4 separate regions of the Homo sapiens genome follow, and regions 2, 3 and 4 are each linked to region 1. The links come from fine-mapping of genetic effects on gene expression. A gene starts in region 1. Each other region holds a variant in brackets. All regions are shown on one strand. Distances are from middle to middle.

Evidence for each region. PIP is the estimated chance that this variant, and not a neighbour inherited with it, causes the effect. A credible set is the group of variants that fine-mapping cannot tell apart.
Region 2: its variant is the best candidate, but not a certain one, in a credible set for the expression of RTCB in sun-exposed skin (GTEx, PIP 0.79).
Region 3: its variant is the best candidate, but not a certain one, in a credible set for the expression of RTCB in whole blood (INTERVAL, PIP 0.89).
Region 4: its variant is the best candidate, but not a certain one, in a credible set for the expression of RTCB in whole blood (INTERVAL, PIP 0.55).

What each region holds. Positions count from the first base shown.
Region 1 is chr22:32,411,078-32,413,825 of GRCh38, reverse strand. RTCB (RNA 2',3'-cyclic phosphate and 5'-OH ligase) reads left to right here and starts at 1,579. Exons shown (of 12, transcript NM_014306.5): 1 at 1,579-1,762. The coding sequence starts at 1,670. RefSeq lists an enhancer at 1,430-1,609.
Region 2 is chr22:32,348,099-32,350,598 of GRCh38, reverse strand. It overlaps a transcript of SLC5A4 not described here. Among named protein-coding and RNA genes, the nearest start is that of RFPL3, 8.5 kb to the left of the region's middle. The variant C/A (reference allele first, on the strand shown) is at 1,168.
Region 3 is chr22:32,386,504-32,389,251 of GRCh38, reverse strand. RTCB (RNA 2',3'-cyclic phosphate and 5'-OH ligase) reads left to right here. Exons shown (of 12, transcript NM_014306.5): 12 at 1,153-1,670. The coding sequence ends at 1,260. It also overlaps the pseudogene RGL4P1. Among named protein-coding and RNA genes, the nearest start is that of RFPL3S, 17 kb to the right of the region's middle. The variant A/G (reference allele first, on the strand shown) is at 1,335.
Region 4 is chr22:32,363,335-32,366,082 of GRCh38, reverse strand. All of the region lies in intron 4 of RFPL3S (RFPL3 antisense), which reads left to right. Among named protein-coding and RNA genes, the nearest start is that of RFPL3S, 6.6 kb to the left of the region's middle. The variant G/C (reference allele first, on the strand shown) is at 1,078.

The DNA of each region.
Region 1 (2,748 bases):
GAAATGGCCTGCCCTGAATTTTTAAAAAATAAAATAAGAGGCCAGCCACAGTAGGCCATGCCTGTAATCCCAGCACTTTAGGAGGCCAAGGTGGGCGGATCATGAGGTCAAGAGGTCGAGACTATCCTGGCCAACATGGTGAAACCCAGTCTCTACTAAAAATACAAAAATTAACTGGGAGTGGTGGCACGCACCTGTAGTCCCAGCTGCTTGGGAGGCTGAGGCAGGAGAATCGCTTGAACCTGGGAGGCGGAGGTTGCAGTGAGCCGAGATGGCACCACTGCACTCCAGCCTGGCGACAGAGCAAGACTCCAACTCAAAAAAATAATAAAATAAAATAAGACATAGAAAAGGGAAGAGACCTAAGGTTGCACAGACATCAAGGCTTGATTTTAAAAGAGAATTCTTTACCTCTGAAATCTTTCCAAGAAGGAACAGGGTAACCACAGGAAACTCTAAAAGTTGTATCACTTCAAGCTTTGGGATTTTTCACCCACCACAGATTCAATGAAATGGCAGTGCAGAGTACTAAACTCAGACAATTCATAACTGAGAATGATATTAATGTGTCAGAGCACCTAATCAATGGGGAGAAATTGGGGCAGAAGAGAAGAAAAGCGGAACCAGTGTAGATAATGCAACAAATGAATGGAAACTACATACTGTTTTTTGCAGCACTTACAGTCTAGTGGGGGAATGGAAAGAGGAGAGCTGTTTATAGAGTGCTTGCCGTGTGCCAAGCCCCGTGCTGATTACCCCTCCAGTGTCACTTCATTTAGCCTTCTACTCAAGAAAGAATTATGATCCCATTTTAGAGATGACGAAACAGAGATAAGAGGGGTTAATCACACCAAGTCAGTAAATGGCACAGATAGAAATTGAATCTTGCGTCTTTCTAATCCCAAAGTTGCAGTTGTTGACATGAGGCCGAACTGGAAACTGAAATCACTTAAAGCTCACTTACCACTATGAACAAGAGACACGGCGTATAAAAGCATGATTAAAGAGGTCTTGATCATCAAATGCGGCTAGACTGGGGAGTTTTGGCGATCCATAAGGGCTGTGATTTGATCATTTTGTAGTATATGTCTGGCCACAATAGATGCACCCACAAGTGTTTGTCAGAATAAATGATAAGCTGCCATGCTTCATTCTTTGGGATGCTCCTTTCTGACCAAAAAAGTTATTTGGTGTATATCCAGATTCATTCTGAAACATAAATGTTCAGCTATGGTATTTACTCAAACAGGTTTTTCTTTCTCAGCTGCTGGCGTTATCTTTTTCCCCTCCCAGCTGAGGGTGTAAACTCCAAGCCAATGCACCGAACCTGACCCAGACTCAAGGTGTTTTCATAAGCTGCTGAAAAGCATTTCCAAAACAAAAGATAACTAGATTATACTTTAAACTTCTGGATTTCGCTTAGCTGTAGTTTAGAGGAAATCGACTAATAAAGATCCTAAAGTTATACACTACAGGACAGTACAACTTAACCAGAGGAAAGACATTGGCCTGAAGAATTTTGAGCCTCGGCGCTTGCCGTTGCTCATCTGCTGCGGCGCTGGTCGCGCCTGCGCTTTGGTTCTTGGAAGGCGGTGCTCTGAGAAGCCGGACTACGCGGCAGCGGCTCTTCAAAGCGGAGCCGGGAGTTTTTGCTACAGTTTTCGCCACCATGAGTCGCAGCTATAATGATGAGCTGCAGTTCTTGGAGAAGATCAATAAAAACTGCTGGAGGATCAAGAAGGGCTTCGTGCCCAACATGCAGGTAAGGCAGGAGAGCAAATGGCGGGGCCTTCCGTGCTCCGTCCCCGGCCCGGCCGGCGTCCACTGCGCCCTCTGGACCTCCCCTGACCACTGGGTCCGCCCCGGCCCCTTGCAGAGTTTCCCTCATCCCGTCCTTCTCCCCTCACGGTTCTGGGGCCGCCCAACCTGTTCCGGCACCACCTCCCGCCAGGAGAGGTCCCCGAACCACGAGGACAAGCTAAGTGCGGTGGATATGGGAATCTAAATAAATACGAAATTGGGGTTTCCAAAGCGTTTTCACAGATCAGTCTCATAAACGTATCGTGAGCTGTTTTACGTTCACAGAAACTTCAGTGATCTTTTCCAGGGTGGAACAGCCAGCCCCAGGTTCATTTGCTGGGACTGGAATTCACCTCCTCTGAGTCATGCTGGTTATTTAAATAACGTTTACAAACCTTTGTTCACTAAACCAGGTTTTCAGCATTCAGTATCGCATGTTGGTTTTTAATAAAGCGATGTCATTTCTTGCAGTAGCGCAGGGCAGGGCCTGTTTGATTTTAATATTCACTTCACAGAAGGACCTCGAGGATCTGTCGGTGACATAGCTTCCTCTACCCACCTAGGAAGAAGCTCAGCCAGGACTTGATGTCCGGTTTACTTCTTTGACGTCCCAGATGGAGACTTGAGGGCTCAGGATCATCAGATAGTTTGAAAGCCTGGGCTCTGTATCTCTCGGCCTTCATCACCATCTGTGCTCATATTTTTATTAATGTGAAAAAAGAAAACGTTTATGAAGTTTTGCAACGTATTTTTAAATAGTTTTTGAAATCCCTGAAGGTGCCAAGTAAATGCTTCAAAGGTTTACCGTCTCGTCTCACGTCTTGGTAAACAGCTCCCAATAGTCACTCCATTCTTTTATTCAGAATCAAAGCTTACTGAGTTTCCCTTGTTGGCAAGTCACTTACACTGAGGGAAGAAAAAGCGCACGGGGATAAATCTGTGTTCTGT
Region 2 (2,500 bases), 63 kb after region 1:
TAACCTCATGTAGTCATTTGTTTACAGATTAATGTTTCTACAGACTAAAGGCATCACAGTCTCCTTTAAGATTGAGTAATATTAATACAATTTGAGATATATAGGGGTAGAAGCCAACAAATTCAGAGGAAAATTGTTAAATTATATAGCTGTAGATGAGGACATGAAACCCAGGTTCTAAGCTCTAAGGGGGCCATGAGCTACCATACCAAGTGCATCAGTGACTGGGCGTAGTGTTAGCAGACTTTTACAGGATGGTTGAGTGAGCTTTGGAGCCTAACTGTATGTGTACATGAATTTTTAAACTGCGTGGCACTTCCGCGTATCCATCTTTACAATGGGGGCAGTATTAAGTTTTTCTTCTCAGTTGACTGAATTATTTCGGTAGTCTTTGTCTTGCTGTCACTCTTGATGGCCACATGAGAGGAGCTAAGGTAATTTCTGGCAGCCTGGGAGTCCTTGGGAAAAACAGAAGGTGCCAGAGACCCCATTTTAGGAGGAGCCTCTGTTTTCCTCATGGACCCCCAAGAAGTGTAAGCAGACAGGTCCCTCTCAAAACCTGGGGAAGGCTCTGCTTTGTTTTGCCTTGCTTTAGCTGACCTTTTTGTTGAGGGCGGGCATCAGAAATTAGTTGGGGAAAGAGAGCTAAAGAAAGTTGCGGATAAGAAGGTGTATTTATGGTAAAGAAGGTTATGAAGGAAAGAGATTTTATGGGAGGGAGGATTTTGTATTACAAATTCTTGTCCTAAAGTAGAATGACTATTTAGAAAAAGAGAGAAATATAGGACAAGTCAGAAAGCCATAATATGGGAAAGAAAAACTTAGAACTGCTCAATCTTGTCTAGAAGTGCTGTATGTGTGATGTTTGTATAAAGGAGTTCTAATTAACTGGCTTTAAAGAGAATGAAAGCTCTCAAATACTTCTTAAGAAAAATAGAAGCTCTAATGCCTTTTAGTTCATGTGATTTCAGTAATCTTTGGGGAATAAAGGCTTTTAAAAGTTATTGGTAAAATGAAAATGTCTTCAAAATTTAGACATTTGGTGTAAATTAAGTCAGAGGTTAAATTTGCTAAGTGCTTTAATGTCATAGACCACTTCTTTGACTTTAGAAAATTGTTCAGATTATGTGGTTTGGAGCTGTTAGATTTCTATGTAAGGCCCTGGGA[C/A]AGGTGGAGTTAGCCATGCCTCCTAGCTATGCTAGAAAGAGTTGACTTTATCTGCAGTTCTGTCTTGTATCCTAGACTCTGCACCTGGTACGTAATTAAAACTGCTTATACTAAAAAGAAATATTACCTGTTTTTGATTTTTTAAAAAAGGCGTGGGAAGGCCGGGCGCAGTGGCTCACGCCTGTAATCCCAGCACCTTGGGAGGCCAAGGTGGGTGGATCATGAGGTCAGGAGATCGAGACTATCCTGGCTAAAATGGTGAAACCCTGTCTCTACTAAAAACACAAAAAATTAGCCAGGCTGGTAACACACGCCTGTAATCCCAGCTACTCGGGAGGCTGAGGCAGGGAAATCACTTGAACCTGGGAGGCAGAGGTTGCAGTGAGCCGAATCGCACCACTGCAGTCCAGCCTGGCGACAGAGCAAGACTCTGTCTTAAAAAAACAACAACAACAAAGAGTTTTGTCTAAACTTAGAAATTTTAAGTATTATTTTTAGCTGAAAGAAAATAAAATTTAAGCAAGTTATGGGACATTTATGAAACTTAACTTTGTAAAGAATTGTGTGTCTGAGCGTGTTGACCAAAATGAAAAGGGTATTATTTAGTTCTTCCATAAATTAAATATTAAAACAGAAGGCACTGAAACAGAGCCAGAATCTGGGCCCATATGTCAAAATAATAGGGTTTTTTGGAACATTGATCAGTTCTTTAACAAGAAAAAATGTTATAAAGAGTTATAAATAGTTACGAAAATCTTACCTTATAGTCATTAATTAAAACTGGATAGATTCATAAAATTTTATTATTAAAAAGTAGCTTTAACATTAAAGATGTACTAACGTAAAAATAAAATTTGGTTTCATATTGAGTTCTTTCTTTTGAGAAATCCAAGAGCTCTCTCTGGGGTCTGGATCGGGACCCTTTTCTGGTAACACCACCACCCCCAGCTCTCCCCTCCTTCCTGGCCTCCACTGGGAGGCACTCCCCTGGAGGAGCAGCTGCTGCTGGCCCCCACCAGACTCAGCACAGAAGGCCAGGCCTGGGCTGCTGCTCTGCCCTCACCTACCCAGGAAATGAGATGGATACACACAGGAGAGTTGGCCTGGGTGGGGAGGGCATTCTGGAAGCCTGCCTTGGCTCTCTGGGTCTTTGGCCAGTAGCCACAGAAATGGAGACTCAGTTCCTTCAGCAATCTGTGTTTCTACTGCGTGTCTGGCACAGAGCGAAGTCCTGGGGTGGGGCCCTGGAGGTGTCCTGGAAAAAACGGGACACCTCCCTGTCCTCCAGGAGCTCACCCTAAGTCACAGAAGCCCATGTTTATGGAGGATTTAC
Region 3 (2,748 bases), 25 kb after region 1:
ATTCATCTAGGGGAGAGACAGTCATTGGCCCAGTGGAATTTCATCTGATTGCCAGGAGCTAGAAATCGCCAAGTAGTACTGGGGAGTGATTCAGGCTCCCACAGATAACTACAGCCAAAGGTAGTTTGTGGTACGATGTAATGACTGCAAGATTCAAAACTAGGAGTGCCTAGGGAGAACGGGAGAATAGAAACAACCATGAAAGCCAGGAGCACACCTGTCCCACTTCTGGGACCAATGGCATGACCTGATTTGGGGAAAACAGCAGTCACCATTCAGAAAGTTGGAGATGAAAGTGGTATCCTCGGGAAAGATCCGTGTTTCAGTAAAACAAGAAGGTGAAGGGAACATTCAAAGAAGAAGGGAGGGAGGGGATTTTGCTCCTTCTGGAAGGAGTTCCAGAGGCCACAGTGGGAAAGTTTCAGAAACTGGAAGGGAATGGGAGATGGGATAGAAAAGGATATTATGTACAGAACCGTACGGGAATCAGCATGGATGGCCTAAGCTTGTATTGACAGGAATGAAGATAAAGTGAGTGTGTGATGAGATTAGTGCTAATGGTGGCAAGGCTGTGTGGGTAGGATGGAATGGTGGGAATGTTGCTGGAAAGTCACAGAAATTGTCTGTGAGTGTAGGTACACATAGATACCCACATATACATGTGCACACAGTTTTACTTTGTTTTATACATATATGAATTTTATAACTTACTGTGAAGGTACTACATGTTCATTCCAGAAATTTTGATAACTGCAGAAATATATAAAGGAAGAAAATTAAAATTGCCAGTAATTCTACCATCAAGAGATAATTATCACTAACATATGATGGTTGGGTGCCGTTTCTTCCAATCAGGTTCTGGTGTGTGTTTTATTTACTTACATTTACTACATTTCCTAGTTATACAAGTAATACATGTTCTTTAAAGACATTTTGAAAAATACAGAAAAAAAAAAAGGTGAAAGTGTTTTGGAAATCAGCACTGACCAACATCAGGCTTACTTCTTTTTTAAATTTTTGCTAATTTCATAGGCAAAAAAAAACTCTCTGTATTATTTTAGTGTGCATTTATTTCATCACAAGTGAAGTTTGGTGCTTGTAAAGACTGTGTTTTCAGTGGACTTGTACAATGTTTAAATTCCTCTCCTGCAGGCTCCTGAGTCCTATAAGAATGTGACAGATGTGGTAAATACCTGCCATGATGCTGGAATCAGCAAGAAAGCCATTAAACTGAGACCAATTGCTGTGATCAAAGGATAGAACCTTGGACAGCAGGGCTGCCTGACACCACCAACCCTCTCTGAAGTGGAAGTGGACTGACATGCTCTTCTGAC[A/G]TCAGACTCAAGGCGGGACAAGTTGCAAAGTGTGCAGCTGTAACTGCTCACGCCAAAATGGCTGATGGGGAGGCTGCTGCTTTCAGGGGCCCGTGCTTGTAAAATAACCTTCCAGGAAGAGGCACATTGCCCACCTTTGGAAAGGGAGGAATATGCCTTCTCCTTGGTTGTTCCACAGAGTTTTAGGAAAATCTGTTAGGGATGGGTAGATGTCAAACTGCCTTACGCAGTCATACTGATCTTTAGCCATCAGATTGATCTTCTTCACACCAAGCTCTGTTTACATTCCGAGAGGTGTCATGAAGAAAGTTCTGTTCAATAAGGTTTTGGAATGTTTCCTTTCGTCTGTTGCTTTGTCAGTTTGTCCATTCATCCACCCATTTAGGCATCACCCCTGCACTCAGCAAAACCCTAAATACCCCTCTTACTTGGAGAGCACCCAGGGAGTTGTAATCAGGCTGTTAGATGAATGGATAGTGGAACACATTGAAGAGGGAGTATGGGGAGGTTTAAGGAATAGCGGCCCAAAAGACAAAGTCTTCATAGCTTTACTACCTTTCTTATTCTAAATACACGGCAGAGTTTTTGTATCCATGGGGCCGGGTGAACAAAATGGAGGTAGGTGGTGGTGCTGGTGATGGAGGGCACAGCAGAACCAGAGGCCTGGCCTCCCTCCTACACATGCCTTGCAGGGCTTTTTTTTTTTTTTTTTTTTTTGAGACTGAGTCTCGCTCTGTCACCCAGGCTGAAGTACAGTGGCGGAATCTCGGCTCACTGCAAGCTCCGCCTCCCAGGTTCACGCCATTCTCCTGCCTCAGCCTCCCGAGTAGCTGGGACTACAGGCGCCCGCTACCATGCCCAGCTAATTTTTTGTATTTTCAGTAGAGATGGGGTTTCACCGTGTTAGCCAGGATGGTCTTGATCTCCTGACCTCGTGATTCGCCCGCCTCAGCCTCCCAAAGTGCTGGGATTACAGGCGTGAGCCACCGCGCCTGGCCCTTGCGGGGCTTTTTATTGTGGTTCTGGGCCCCTGGCTTGTTGCTTCCTGTGTAGAGGACAGCCCCACTCCAGCCCCAGCCATCTGTGCTGTCTTGATAGGGGCAGACCTGGCCATGCAGCAGGGCTATACAGACCCTTGCGGGCCCCGGCTTCCTACTGACATTCTCTTCCCAAAGGCCCTGGCACACAGTGCTGAGCACCTGGGCACTCACAACTGCAGCTCCAGGCAGATGTGTGAGCAGGTTGCCCATCAAAACTCCAGCTCTGGGCCACTTGGTGCTTGGGTTGGGAGAGGCAGATGTGGCATGGAGGACAGGCAGAGATAGGAAACCCCTGTGCTGGGAATGGTTCTCTTGGGGGTCGGCCCTGGCCATAGCCTCCCCTATATTTTACTGGGGACCTAAGGTGCCATCTA
Region 4 (2,748 bases), 48 kb after region 1:
ACTGTTAAGTTCAGGGGTGCATGTGCAGGTTTGTTACATAGGTCAACTTGTGTCATGGGGATTTCTTGTGCAGATTATCTTGTCACCTGGGTTTTAAGCCTAGCGCCCATTAGTTATTTTTCCTGATCCTCCCTCCTCCCACCGTCCCCCATCCGATAGCCCCGTGTGTGTTGTTCAGCTCTGTGTGTCCCTGTGAGATTGGTCATTTTTAGGTCAAATTTTACATAGTATGTTCTTTATGTGCTTTCTTCTAGAACTTTCTATGTTTTATTAACTAGGCAACTGTTGCTAAAATCTCTACTAAAAGTGGGCACATCTTTATAATAACAAATAGAAGCTTGTAAAGTTGTGATACCTTAAATTTTGCCAAGTTATGAGGGCTTTGCCTGAGACCTGGATGACAGAGTTGTGTAAGAATGTGGGTTCCTCTGAAGACTGTTGAATTTTCTGAGAATAAAGATCTTATTTGTTTCTATTACATAGGGTTAAAGCAGGGACACGGTGGTCTCTAAGGCACATAGGAGGCTCTGAGAACGGAAAATGAGATCTTTCCAAACAGTAATGCAAATCTCCATTTCTGTATTTAGGATCCCTCTGAGAGCAAGCAGGGGTTCACAGAAGGATATAGCTCACTAAGAGAAACAAATAATGGGAAACACAGGTTTATAGCATTTAGAAGAAAATACCAAGATGAACATATTAATATCTAAAGTGAGTTTTGATGAAAACAATATAAAAATTTTTAAAACTCAAAATGTAAATATCAGGACCATGTGACTTACTTTTATTTCTACCAAATAATAAAGACTGGCAATCCTGGGCACACACTTCCAGAGAATACACAGCAAACACAGCCATAGTGCTTTATCATTTTAGGAGAATCTTGATTCCACTCCTGCAATAATAGACTTGACTGGAAAGTGGAAGGACAGAAACATTCCTCTGAATGTGGAACCCAAAATCTGAAAACAAATGTTAGTGATCTAGAGGTGGACTTAAAAAAATAGGATGAAGAGTGGTATTTTATGAGAAGACTTTCAGAGGGCTCACGAGAGAGAATCAGTGGCATTTTCACTG[G/C]TGAAGGATTGGGAGAAGAGGCAGAGCCATTGGGTTAATGGAAGGGACATCTGGAGTCAGAGGGAAAGGGGGATCAGAGTGAACCTTGAATGAGAGTCCTGGGGCAGAGTCCTGGGGCAGAGGTTTCCAGGCTGTGGCTATGGAGGGTTTTTTGTTTTTTTTTTTTTTTGAGACAGAGTCTTGCTCTGTCTCCCAGACTGGAGTGCAGTGGCGCGATCTCGGCTCACTGCAAGCTCCACCCCCTGGGTTCACGCCATTCTCCTGCCTCAGCCTCCCGAGTAGCTGGGACTACAGGCGCCCGCCACCATGCCCGGCTAAATTTTTGTATTTTTAGAAGAGACGGGGTTTCACCATGTTAGCCAGGATGGTCTCGGTCTCCTGACCTCATGATCCGCCCACCTCGGCCTCCCAAAGTGCTGGAATTACAGGCATGAGCCACTGCGCCTGGCCGGAGGGGTCTTTCTGACAGGAGATAGGACTGTCCCCTGCCACGGCAAGGTCAAGAAATGGATGTGGAGTTTGTAAAATAGAAAGTGATCTTTGATGGGGAAAGAATGAGCTGATAAGGTGTACACTCCCTGCTGGTGCACCTGCTGCCCATTCTTAGCCACACCTTTTTCCAGGTGGCTCAGATCAGCAGTCAAGGAGAAAGTGGGGGTGGCAGACTAAATTCATTAAACCACCAAAGCACCAGCCCAGATGGCCTCTTTTTCAGTTAATTCGCATTAGCTACTTATTCAGGTTTGATAAGTGGGAGAGAAGTTGTTACTTGCAGAAGCATCTTGTGATAGATGTTTTGCATTGTTCTAAGGCCTGAGCAGTCTTGGAGACAGGCAGACACTGGTCGCTCACTGTGATCACTGGAGGAAACAGTTACTGAGAGGCAGCTGACAGGGTGAAGGGAGTGGGGGAGGAAGGCCACGCATTTGTGCTTCCCAAGGTCCCACAGGTGACATCCTTTAAAGGAAACTGTGTCATACTTGGGGTGGAAGATTTGAAAGGCAGAGGAAAAGAATGCTTTATAATTAGGGACCTGTCTTCATCTCAGGCGACTCTTCCCGAGCACGAACTCTGTCTTTCCACACACCTTGGGAATAAAAGTATTGGAGAAAGAGAGTGAAAGGGTCCCTTTGATCAGTGGTCCAGGGCACGATATAGAGGTCTCAGTTGTTCAGGAATCTCTGTCTCTAGGGAACCAAATTTATTCCAACCCCCAGATCCTTCACTCATTAGAATGGGATTCTGCAAATCTCTCACCATCTCTAAGTGATACTCAGCCCCTCCTGTGCCCACCCTGCCGGGCTGATGTGGGGAGTCCCGGAGATAATAGGAGATGTCCTCCAGAAGTTGTAAGGCATCACACCCACGTAAAAGATGAACAGGGAACCACCCTCCACTGGCCTGGAGCCACCCAAGCAGCCTCTCTGTGTTCAGCCACTACTAAGTCTCCGGCTTATTCCTTCTGGCATTTAGTAAACCCTTACACATCACTACTGAAGTTCTGATTCTCTTTCTTAATATTCTCCTGCATTTAGTGATTTTTCTAGCCCCATACTGTGAGATTAATAAGTAGGCCCTATGAAAAGTTTAACATGACAGCGCAGAGATCTGAGGGCCGAGGGATTACATGACCTTCCCAGGTCTACGTGGCTCTAGTGGGATTGGGGTGCA